2 separate regions of the Homo sapiens genome follow, and region 2 is linked to region 1. Evidence: fine-mapped expression QTL. Tissue or cell type: whole blood. Region 1 holds a variant in brackets; the other region holds the start of a gene. All regions are shown on one strand. Distances are from middle to middle. Region 1 holds the start of ANKRD44 (ankyrin repeat domain 44). Region 2 holds the start of ANKRD44-AS1 (ANKRD44 antisense RNA 1).

Evidence for each region.
Region 2: it holds the start of ANKRD44-AS1, and the variant in region 1 is fine-mapped to the expression of ANKRD44-AS1 in whole blood (INTERVAL, PIP above 0.99).

What each region holds. Positions count from the first base shown.
Region 1 is chr2:197,310,170-197,315,546 of GRCh38, forward strand. ANKRD44 (ankyrin repeat domain 44) reads right to left here and starts at 611. Exons shown (of 28, transcript NM_001195144.2): 1 at 409-611. The coding sequence starts at 435. ANKRD44-DT (ANKRD44 divergent transcript) reads left to right here and starts at 897. Exons shown (of 4, transcript XR_923750.3): 1 at 897-2,529; 2 at 4,020-4,148; 3 at 4,300-4,315. RefSeq lists silencers at 87-466, 517-836, 847-926. The variant A/G (reference allele first, on the strand shown) is at 3,081.
Region 2 is chr2:197,194,906-197,200,282 of GRCh38, forward strand. It overlaps ANKRD44-AS1 (ANKRD44 antisense RNA 1), which reads left to right and starts at 3,086. Exons shown (of 2, transcript NR_135584.1): 1 at 3,086-3,184; 2 at 4,013-4,368. The region is part of intron 1 of ANKRD44 (ankyrin repeat domain 44); the gene reads right to left. RefSeq lists an enhancer at 4,132-4,201.

The DNA.
Region 1 (5,377 bases):
CTGCGATCCTTTCTCCCTCTTCGTGCAGCGTCCTCCTCCCCGGGGCCCGGGCCGGCGGCGCCCACGCAACGCGGCGCGGTGCGAGTCCCGAGAGCACCTCGAGCCCCCGGCCCCCTCCCCAGCCCCGCCGGGCCCGCGGCCGCCGCACTCCCGCACGCCGGCTGCCCAGCGCCCACGGGCCCTGCCCCAGACTCGGGCGCGCAGTTCCGACGGCCCAGGGCGGGGACGGCGCGGCGGAGGGGAGCTGCCGCCGCGGGCTCTCGGAGGCACCGGCGGCCGCACACAGTCCTCCCCTTCGCCGCGAGTAAACAGCTCGCGGGCGCGCTCCAGCCGCGCCCCCATCCCCCCGCCGGGCTCCGCGCCGCCCCGCGCCCGCGCGTCCCGCCCGCCGGCGCCGCCGCCCGCTACCTGGTCGGTGAGTTTGAGCACTGCCATTCTTCCGCTCCTTCGCGCGCACACACATGCAGGTCCCCGGCCCGCAGATGTCACGCCGGGAGCCGGGGAAGCGGAAGGGATTGCCAGGAGAAGGGAAAAAATCTGGCTCCCGAATTTGACAGCCCTCCCCCTGCTCCTCCTCCGCCGCCGCCTCCTCCCGCCGAGAGGCTGACACTGGCTAGTGGGGTTTGCAGCCGAGCCCGCCCGCCTTTCCACAGGAAGTACCGGCTGCTGCCAGCCGGGCCGCCACTGACATCACCGCGCGCTGGCTCGCTCGCCGCCCGCCGCCTGGGCCGACGCTGCCTCCTGCCGCCCGCAGCCGAGCCGCGCAGCCCGGCCCCCGGCGCTGCCCCCGCGCCCGCACCGGGCCGCCGCCTGCCTTCCGCACCTGCACGCGGCGCCCGGCCGGGCCGGCCCCGGGCCCTGGGCGGATCGCGGGCCTCCCTGACGGGTCTCACACATATGGGTGGGGAAGCCCGCGGGGACACACCCCGAGGGGGCAGGAAAGGCTCTCACTCACATGCCGTCCACTTTAACCGGGGAGATGGGGTTACGCCCCCTTCCCCTAACCCAGAATCAGGTGGTGGCAGCGCCCCGAAGATCCCAGGGACCGCAATTATGATGCTCCCTTTGTTTAATGCCAGGAGGCAGCGGACACATTGTGATTCTTTACAGGGTGTTTGCCAAACATTTATGGGTGGAGGGAACAGAAGCTCTGGCCCTTCCACCTTGTTCTCCAGCCACTTTCCAGCTAAACACACACACACATATGCACACACACATACTATTGTTAAATTCAAACACCCTGGGTTTGGTTTTTGCTGGTGGGGGTGGAGTGGAGTTCCTGGAGAAGCAAAGCAGTCCTAAATCACCGAGTTGATGGGTCTTTTGGGTGTTCCCACCAGTCCTTACTGATCTCTACAAAATCCCAAGTTACCAAGCTCTTCAACAAATAGAAGACAGCTGTCAAACACCATGGGCTACAGATACAACGGGCATATTCGTAAGCATAGTAGCTGTTGATAGTTCTGGAATTTGGAGCAAACACTTATTCATTGAACAGCTATGTACTGAGTCCCTACCTTGTCAGGCACTGGCTAGGCACGGGAATAAACGGAGAGCATAAATAAGATAACCTGCTCTCAGAAGATGCCAACATAAACCGCATAGTCTCTGCTAATGAATGTAATTACAAACTGAGATAAGGGATCTCAAGGGAAAACATGCTTCTGAAGTGAACCCACAACAAAGGAATCAGACCAGACTGGTGGGTGAGGGCAGGCTTCCCTGAGAAAGTGACAGGAGTTGAGATCTGGAGAAGGGAGAATTAAGTAAGCAAGTGGAGAGGAAGTGCTCCCAGGCAGCCCCATGTGCCCCTGGCAGGCCATAGAGCAAACCTGTAGGGCAGCATTGAACAGCTTTGAAGAGCAAACTAGAGCTACAGAATTCTTTGGTCAAGACCAAACATCTGCCTCTACTGTATATTCACAAACCAAATGTCCATTCTTCCTCCCTACTCTTAGAACCTCCCCCAAAGATTCCACATGAGACAGGAGAGAAAGGAGCATTAATATCCTCACATTTACCATCCAGCCACTCTGGTTGTCGAAGCAGCTAAATCTCAAATTTACCTTTATTAGTCTTATAGATTATAATTCAGATCATGCAGACAAGAAGAACCAAGGAACTTTGTTCCTGGCTTCCACTCCTCTGTTATCAATGTTGCATGGAAACAAACAAACAAAAAATTCTAAGGCCTTTCTCAGACATACAACAGATTGTTTATGTTGCATCTATGAGTCAGTTCTTCACTGCTGTTATTGGTATGTCTATTTACTGAACACCCTGCATGGCTTTGTAAGTAAACTGAATAGGACCCTGCATTCTCTACTTAAATAGAGCCATCTTTCAGAAGAGTGATAACAAATGACTTAATTTGGAAGATTCACTCAAGATCCAATTTGATTCATCGCGGACATGCCTGCACCTAAGTTCCTGGGGCCAAAGTGAGGAGGCAGCAGTTCTCCACCCAATCAGACCATCATCCTCTTTTTGTAACTAGTATCTTTAACACTCCCCTTACTATCCTGAAAGGTAATTTGTGGATAATATTACCTACCAATACAAATTTCAAAAAAAAAAAAACCAGCAACAATATATTGTCCTAATTGTACAATAAAGGAAAAATTAAAGGAGAGTAATTTATAATGAATATGTATTTCAGTAGGTAAGTGGTAAAACACAACTCTCTTTGTCTTCTGACAAAACAAAGCAGTAAGATGCTTCCACCTATATGGAGAGGCTTTGTGAATGAGAGAATTACAAATGCAGACAGATGTGAACATATAGTGTTAGGAATTCAAATATCAAGATTGGTGTTGTCATAGGTGACCTGACTTTGTGAAAGGTTGAACAACTCGTGGCCAAGTTCCAAATAAAATAGGGAGCAGAAGATTTGGCAAAATTTATTGATAAGACTACACTTATCAGAAGGTCTGCTTTTAATGTGTTAGCCAGTACTTTGACAGTGATTCAAACACTTTGTTTACTTCATTAAATGAGACTCAGACTCAGCAGTTGACTATATTCGGTGAGCTTGAGAAGCCAGAATGCCCCTGGTATAATGTAGAGAAAGAAATCCAAAG[A/G]TTTGTGGAGATGGGAATGTTGGAATAATTTTATCATGTATAATCTGTACAGCCAACCCCTACATATTCCTGGAGAGCCAGATGATGATCTTTATACTGAAGCATTGAAAAATACAGGCCAGGCACCATGGCTTATGCCTATAATCCCAGCACTTTGGGAGGCTGAAGCAGGTGGATCACCTGAGGTCAGGAGTTCCAGACCAGCCTGGCTAACATGGTGAAACCCCGTCTCTACTAAAAATACAAAAAATTAGCCAGGCGTGGTGGCATGCACCTGTAGTTCCAGCTACTTGGGAGGCTGAGTCACGAGAGTCGCTTGAACCCAGGAGGCAGAGGTTGCACTGAGCCAATGACGCGCCATTGCACTCCAGCCTGGGCAACAAAGCAAGACTCTGTCAAAAAGAAAAAAAAAGAAAAGGAAAGAAAAATACATTCGAGAGAGAACGTCAGAAAAACTCTCTAGTAGCTGGATATGATGGTGGGAGATGCTTTCGTTGAGATGGCTCCTTGATTTTTATATTAGTGGGATCCTGCGACAGCAATGGCCAAGTGGCAGCACTTAGCTGGCAGAGACAAGGTGGACACATTTACTGTAATGGACAGCAGAGACAAAGTAGTACTTAAAGGTCTTAACCTACAGGTATATCTGGCAGTGCCCTAGGTTGTCCTAGGAATGAAATAGACGGGCAGACTTTGGAAATAGCCATTGATCTTTATAACAGACAAAACTCTACATCTGCCACCTGAAAGCTCCCTTGAGCCATCAAAATGAAATTATCTTTCATTCAGTTTCCGTACCTAAATGAGTTCACAGACACAGAGCTCCTTGATTAAAAGGGAAGCTGGTCCCCTTCAGGAGGGTCTTGCAGCATTGTCATAAATATATACTACAAATCCTCATCCAAGCCTTATCCAAAGGAACCTGATGTATTTTTCTAGGCTGAGCGAGTACTGGGAAAAAGGAAATACCCAGACATTTGAGGGATCACTGACACTGCTTCTGAATTAATGCTAATTCCTGAGGATTGCAAACACCACTGGATCCACCAATCAAAATGGGGATCTATGGTAGGTGATAAATGAAATTTTTAACTAAGTATAAATCAGTGTGGATCCAGTAGCTCTGCAGACCCAAACTATAGTTATCTCCTCAACTGTTAGTTAGAATAGACATACTCAGTAACTAACAGAATCCTAACATCATTTCTCTGACCCACAGAGTGAAGTTTATTATGGTAAGACAGGCCAAATGGAAGCCTCTGGAATTTCCTCTTGATACCAGAATAGAAAACCAACAACAATGCTCAATCCCTGGAAATATGTAGAAATTGGTACCACCAGAAAAGACGTAGAAGATACAGGAATGATAATACTGTCACATCTCCATTTAACTCACCTGTTGGGCCTATGCAAAAGATCTTAGAGAATAACTATGATTTGTTATTAAGTTGTAAACTTAATCAAATGGTAATGTCAGTTGCAGCTGCTATTCTATATATGCTGTCTTTACCGCAACAAAGCAACTCAGCCCTAGGCACCTGGTGTGCACTATTGATATGGCAAATGCTTTTTATCTATTTCAATTTTCACCAAAAGTTGTTTTCTTTTATATGGCAAGATCAACAGTACACCTTTACAGTCTTCTCTAGGGGATGTAAACACTCCCACTCTCTGGCATAATCTCATCTGCACAGGTCTTGATCACTATGTTAAAGACATCGAGCTGACTGGCCCTGATAAACAGGAAGTAACAAATATTTTAGCTGCCTTAACAACACACATGTGAGCCAGAGATTGGGTATAAACCCCAAGAAAATTCATCACCTTAGTGAAGTTTCTGGAGGTCCAGTGGTCTAGAAAACACCAGGATATTCTCCCCAACGTAAAAGACAAATTACTTCACCTTGTACCATCTACCACTAAGAAAAGAGACACAATACTTTCTGGGTATCCTTGGATTTTAGAGGCAATATGTATCACATCTGAGTGTGATGCTGTGACCCATTTATAGAGCAACCCATAAGGCTGGAATTTTTTATTAGGAATAAGGGGAGAAGAAATATCTGTAGCAGGACTTGATGACCCAGAGGAATCCAATGATACTTAAAGTGTCTGTGGCAAATAAGGATGCTATATAGAGCCTCTGGTGAGCCCTGATTAGATCTACAATGCAGAATTCCTTAGTTGTAGAGCAAGTCATGCCCTCTTCTGCAGATAACAATTTTCTATTTGAGGAATGGTCCCTAGCTTGCTAAGTGAATTTGAATGACTGGCCATGAGACAATCAAGTGACTGCA
Region 2 (5,377 bases), 120 kb before region 1:
GATGAGACTGGGGACTGGAGAGTAAATCTTTCATGTTGGAAAATAATAGAAGATGAAGTTAGAAAAATGAATAACTGGGTGGGGGGAGCATCACATCAGCATAAGAAGCTTTAACCTAATCTTTTTGGTGCAATCATATAGCTCATTACCACCTCAAACTCTTGGGCTCAAGCGATGCTCCCACCTCAGCCTCCCAAGTAATTCAGACTATGGGCACAGGCCACTGTTAAACCTGGTGAATTTTTAATATTTTTTTGTGGAGACAGGGTCTCGCTATGTTGCCCAGGCTGCTCTTGAACCCCTGGCCTCAAGCAATTCTTCTGCCTCAGCCTCCCAAAGAGCTGGGATTACAGTCATGAGCACTGTACCCAGCCTTTACCTAATCTTATGGACAAACAGGAATGGGGGTCATGAGCAGGAGAAAGGAATAGAGTTTTCCCAAGAATTTAATCTGGCCAAAGTGTACACTGAGTACTGGAGAAGGAGAGATTGGAGTTAGAGGCCCAGTTAGAAGGCTGTTGCTACAATCCAAGCCATCACAGGAAAGAACTTTCCCATCTTTTTTTTAATCACAGTCTCCCCAGGTGCTACTTACAGGGATACGGTGAAAACAACAGATATAGTTTTTGGTTCTTTAATGTCTGCTCTATTCCTGGATGCAATTTTGGCCCAGCATCTTGGCCACTTTCCTTCACTCTTTATATATAGCCCAAATCCCTTGCCTCCGAAACACTAATGTTTCCAGGTGAAACTGAGGTTACTTCCTTTAGTTCTGGAACATTTCCATTTTTTCCCCCACAGAACCTCTGCGGATGTAAGCTCTGTTTTGTCAGACTTGTCACTTGATCGCTGAATTTAAATCATAACATTTCAAAAATAGGCCACATCCATAAAGAGAAAGGCAAATCAAAACAAGGCAGACAGCCTTTGCCAAGTGCCATATTTCTATCAGGATCTGCTGCCAACTACCCACAGATTTTTTCACTCTGTCTAGTTTCAAATGGCTTGAGATCAAACCTAAACTTTAGCTAAGATAATTAAATTGTGTTGGGGAGTTAACTTTTAAAGAAAGCTAATTTGGGCAAAAAGGACAATGGATCCAGGAGGTTAGTTCATACAGAACATTTAAATCCATGTAATTTTAGTGAAACAAAAAGAACAACTATATATACTTCTGCAACAGTTTCCTGTTTTGAAAAATTGGTATAGAGGTTTTATTTCTCATCTTGGCTTGGGTTACATTCTTTGTATAACTGTATCTTACTGCATATTGAATTCATGTAGTTGCAAACATGAGAGGTGGATTTAATAATGTTAATCAATATAAACCACTTTAGTGATCTTTGTGGGGAAAAAAGAAAAATGGCCAGAAGATGATTTTCAGGGTTGTAGGTATATTCAGTATAATTTATTTGTCTGTTCAAATAGAGACAGCAGTTCAGTTTTAGGGTGCACTGGAAAACATGACTTTTTATTACTACCTGGTATGTGCATCACTTATAAAAAAGACAACAATAAAAAAGTATTCCTTATAAAAAATAGCAGAAAATGATCCATAACTACAGAAGTATCTTCTTGTGGTCATGAGTAATTTTAATTTTTGAGAATCTCACAAATTGGAAGCTAAATAAAGCAATTCAAGTGTCCTTTAAAAACAACAACAAAATCAGCATGTAGAAATGAAAGGTACTCTCAGAAAGGTGGCAATCTCCTGCTACATTTGAGGAGGCTGGAACTACTGTATACAAGATATATGGATTAACTCAGTCACATTAAATCATTCATGATTTAGGCAACTCCAGATTGGGTTTGTCTAAAATCTGTTAGCACCTGGGTTCTTTCCAAACACCAGCAAGCAATTTTTACACAATCAGGTCTTTCCAAAGCCCATGACAATTTTCCTTTAAACCCTCTCCTTCCCTTCTACTGTTCTTTTCTTTGAATTCCACGTGCATTCTTGGAAAGACAGCAAGCAGTTAAACTCTCACCACCTCTCCACAGGTGAGGGACTAGGGACATGTGTAAAACGGAGTCACCTTCCTGTTCTGGCCATTGTCAATTTTTTTTTTCCTAAGGCATCTTGTTATAGCAACCATTCTAAAATTGTTATAGCAACCATTCTAAAATTTAAGGCAGTGGGTTGATCAGGACCTGAATTAGTTTCTGCCTGAGATGACTGGAAGGTCCCCTACTCCCTCCCCAGCCAGAAAAAGTCACATGGAATGAAAATCTATTAGAGAATCCCCTCAGTGTAGTCTTTCAGGAAGCATCTTCTCATTTCCCCATCCAAAATCATGGTAAGGACATCCAGTGACAGATGTCAAAGGGAAAGGATAAGGCAGCAGGAAGAGAGAGGAGCCTAAGAGACTGGAAAACATTCGATAATATAAAATGGGAAAATGGGAAATTCTGCAAAAAAAAAGAAGTCATATCATATTTCCTTTCACAGACACCAACCCAGTGCGTAGCTCCTTTATTTCTTTACACACTACCCCCTCCAACAGGGGATAAAAGATATGTTTTCTAAAACTTAATTTGGTACATTTCAGATAACCACATTCAATTCAACAAAGATGTATTAAGCATAAGACATTTACTGAGCATAAGAAATTCAGACACTGGAGGCCGGGCGCAGTAGCTCATGCTTGTAATCCCAACACTTTGGGAGACCAAGGCAGGCGGATCACTTGAATCCAGGAGTTCCAGACCAGCCTAGACACATGGTGAAACCACATCTCCACTAAAAATGCAAAAATTAGCTGGGCACGGTGGCGCACACCTGTAGTCCCAGCGACTCGGGAGGCTGAGGTGGGAGAACCAACTGAGCCCAGGAAATTGAGGCTGCAGTGAGCCATGCTCACACCATTGCACTCCAGCCTGGGTGACAGAGTGAAATCCTGTCTCAAAAAAAAAAAAAAAAAAAAAGAAAGAAAGAAACACAGAAAAAGAAAAAGAAAGAAAGAAATTCAGACACTGGAATGTCAGAGTCAGTCTCTCCCTTGATGAGGTTACCAAGGTGTAACAGGAAGTATACAAATACGCACAGCTAGAATGTAAGGCACAGGCCGCAGGAGAAGTGCATGGAGAAGGGAGAGAAATTGTACCTGGCCTCCTGAAAGACGCAGCCTCTGAAATGAATATTGAAGACTGGGGAGGATTTAAACAGGTAGAGACGGATGGAATGGTAAGGGACTTTCCCTTCTTCATATTCAGAAGGCTGTGAGCAGAAGCTAGGGAGCCTGAACATACACAGGGAACAGTTTCATTTGGCTGGAGGAGGGGAGAAGTGAGGTAAGCTGAGTAGTAGACAGGGATCCTATCATGGAAGGTCTTGAATACCAAGCTAAGAAATTTGAGCTCTCTTCTGTGGAACTGGGGGAGCAGTGGGTGGTTTTTGAGCAGGGGAGTGACCTAAGATTTGTGCTTTAGAACAATCACTCTAAAAATGGATTGTATGATGACCTGGAGGAAAAGGCTGGAGTGTCATAACAAGTTAGGAAACTGCAATAATAGTCTGCACAAAGGGCTCTGGGGATGGAGTACCGCTCAGTTGTCAGAGGAAGCATTCTTCTGGTGGTAATATGTGAATCTAAAAGGTAAATTTGACCGGGCATGGTGGCTCACGTCTGTAATCCCAGCACTTTGGGAGGCCGAGGCAGGTGGATCACCTGAGGCCAGGAGTTTGAGACCAGCCTGGCCAACATGGTGAAACCCCGTCTCTACTAAAAATACAAAAAATTAGCCAGGCATGGTGGCGTGCCCCTGTAATCCCAGCTACTCGGGAGGCTGAAGCAGGTGAATCGCTTGAGCCCGGGAGGTGGAGGTTGCAGTGAGCTGAAATCGTGCTACTGCACTCCAGCCTGGGCGACAGCAAGACTCCATCTCGAAAAATAAAAAATAAAATAAAATAAAATAAAATGTAAATCTAGCTCCACCTTTAATGTAGCAAGGGCTAGCCTCCTCAGGAGTGGCTGCCTACATTCAAAACGATTCTCACCAACTTCTTCCACAGGACACAGGGCTCGGGAGCAGCGCCAGCCCGACATCGGCGGAGGAGCACCGGAAGTTCTGCAGCACTGGCTTTCTTTGCTCTTCCACCTATGCAAGCTCCTTCTCTCTTGTGGCTTGCCGAGCCTGGTTAGCTCTGAGACCGGAAGTTCTGAAGTCAGCTGGCATCCTACATCTGTGCAACCTACTTCTCTCCCCATCCCACCACAGAAACCAGAGCCTCGAGGCTTTTGGCTTGGGTGCTGCCTTCACAGTTTAGGTTTTGGTAAGAAGAAAGCTTATCTTCATGTCATGAGAAAGAAAAAAAAATGTATCTTTACGTAACGAGCTGAAAGAACAAAACAAGTATACCTAAGCCAAGTACATGCTATCTTTATTTCTTTATTTCCACACTGAAATTTAGTCAGGGATAAAACTTACTTTTTTAATCACACGAAGTTTGAAAAATAGGAAGTACTATGGGAAACACCTAATGCATCAAAACCCCTGTGCATTTTATCTTTGTCTTATGTTTGCTGGATTTTAATCTTAGTAGGTTTCCTGTTGCAACAATACAAAAACAGATAAAGAAAAAACTTAATAACCTTTCCTACCACAAATGTGAACAGCCCGTGTTCTTGTTGGTAGGTACAGATACAGATATATGAGATTATCGTTATTTATTATCAGAAAATGGGATTTTACTATTTCCCACACACACACTTTTTTTGAGATGGGGGTCTTGCTATATTGTCCAGGGTGGTCTCAAATTCTTGGGTTCAAGCGATCCTCCCACCCAAGTATCTGTAATCCAAGTAGTCTGGATTACAGATGCATACCACCATGCCTGGCTTATTTCCCTCTCTTACAATTTGCAAAAATAATGATGTACTGAGGACATCCCCCAGGTCGATAGCTACAGGATTAAATCATTTCTCTTAATAACTATATATAATACTATTCCATTGTATGGATATGCCATAACATATTCAATTATTCCCCTTCGAATGGGCATTTGGGTTGTTTCTAGTTTGTACCACAACAAACAAGCCTCTATCAGTGCTTATCCACATTGCACAGAGAAGTGCTACCAGAGCCAAAAGCATTTTCTGAGTACCTACAATATGCTATTTTTATGAAATATACAAAAGAAATGTGTGACATAGTCCTTTCCTAAAAGACTGCCAAATATAGTTGGGGAAATAAGCCTAACCCACACAAAACACTTAAACTGTGTAAGACAGTACTGAACCATGTTCTACAGACCTCATGCAAATGGATGCCAAGTTGTCCTTCTGCACAATGACAGATTGGAGAGGTAATCTGGAGGTGCCTTTAGCCATAATATTCTAGGAGCCTTCTTGATTCAGAAAAGGGGAAGCATGAAAGG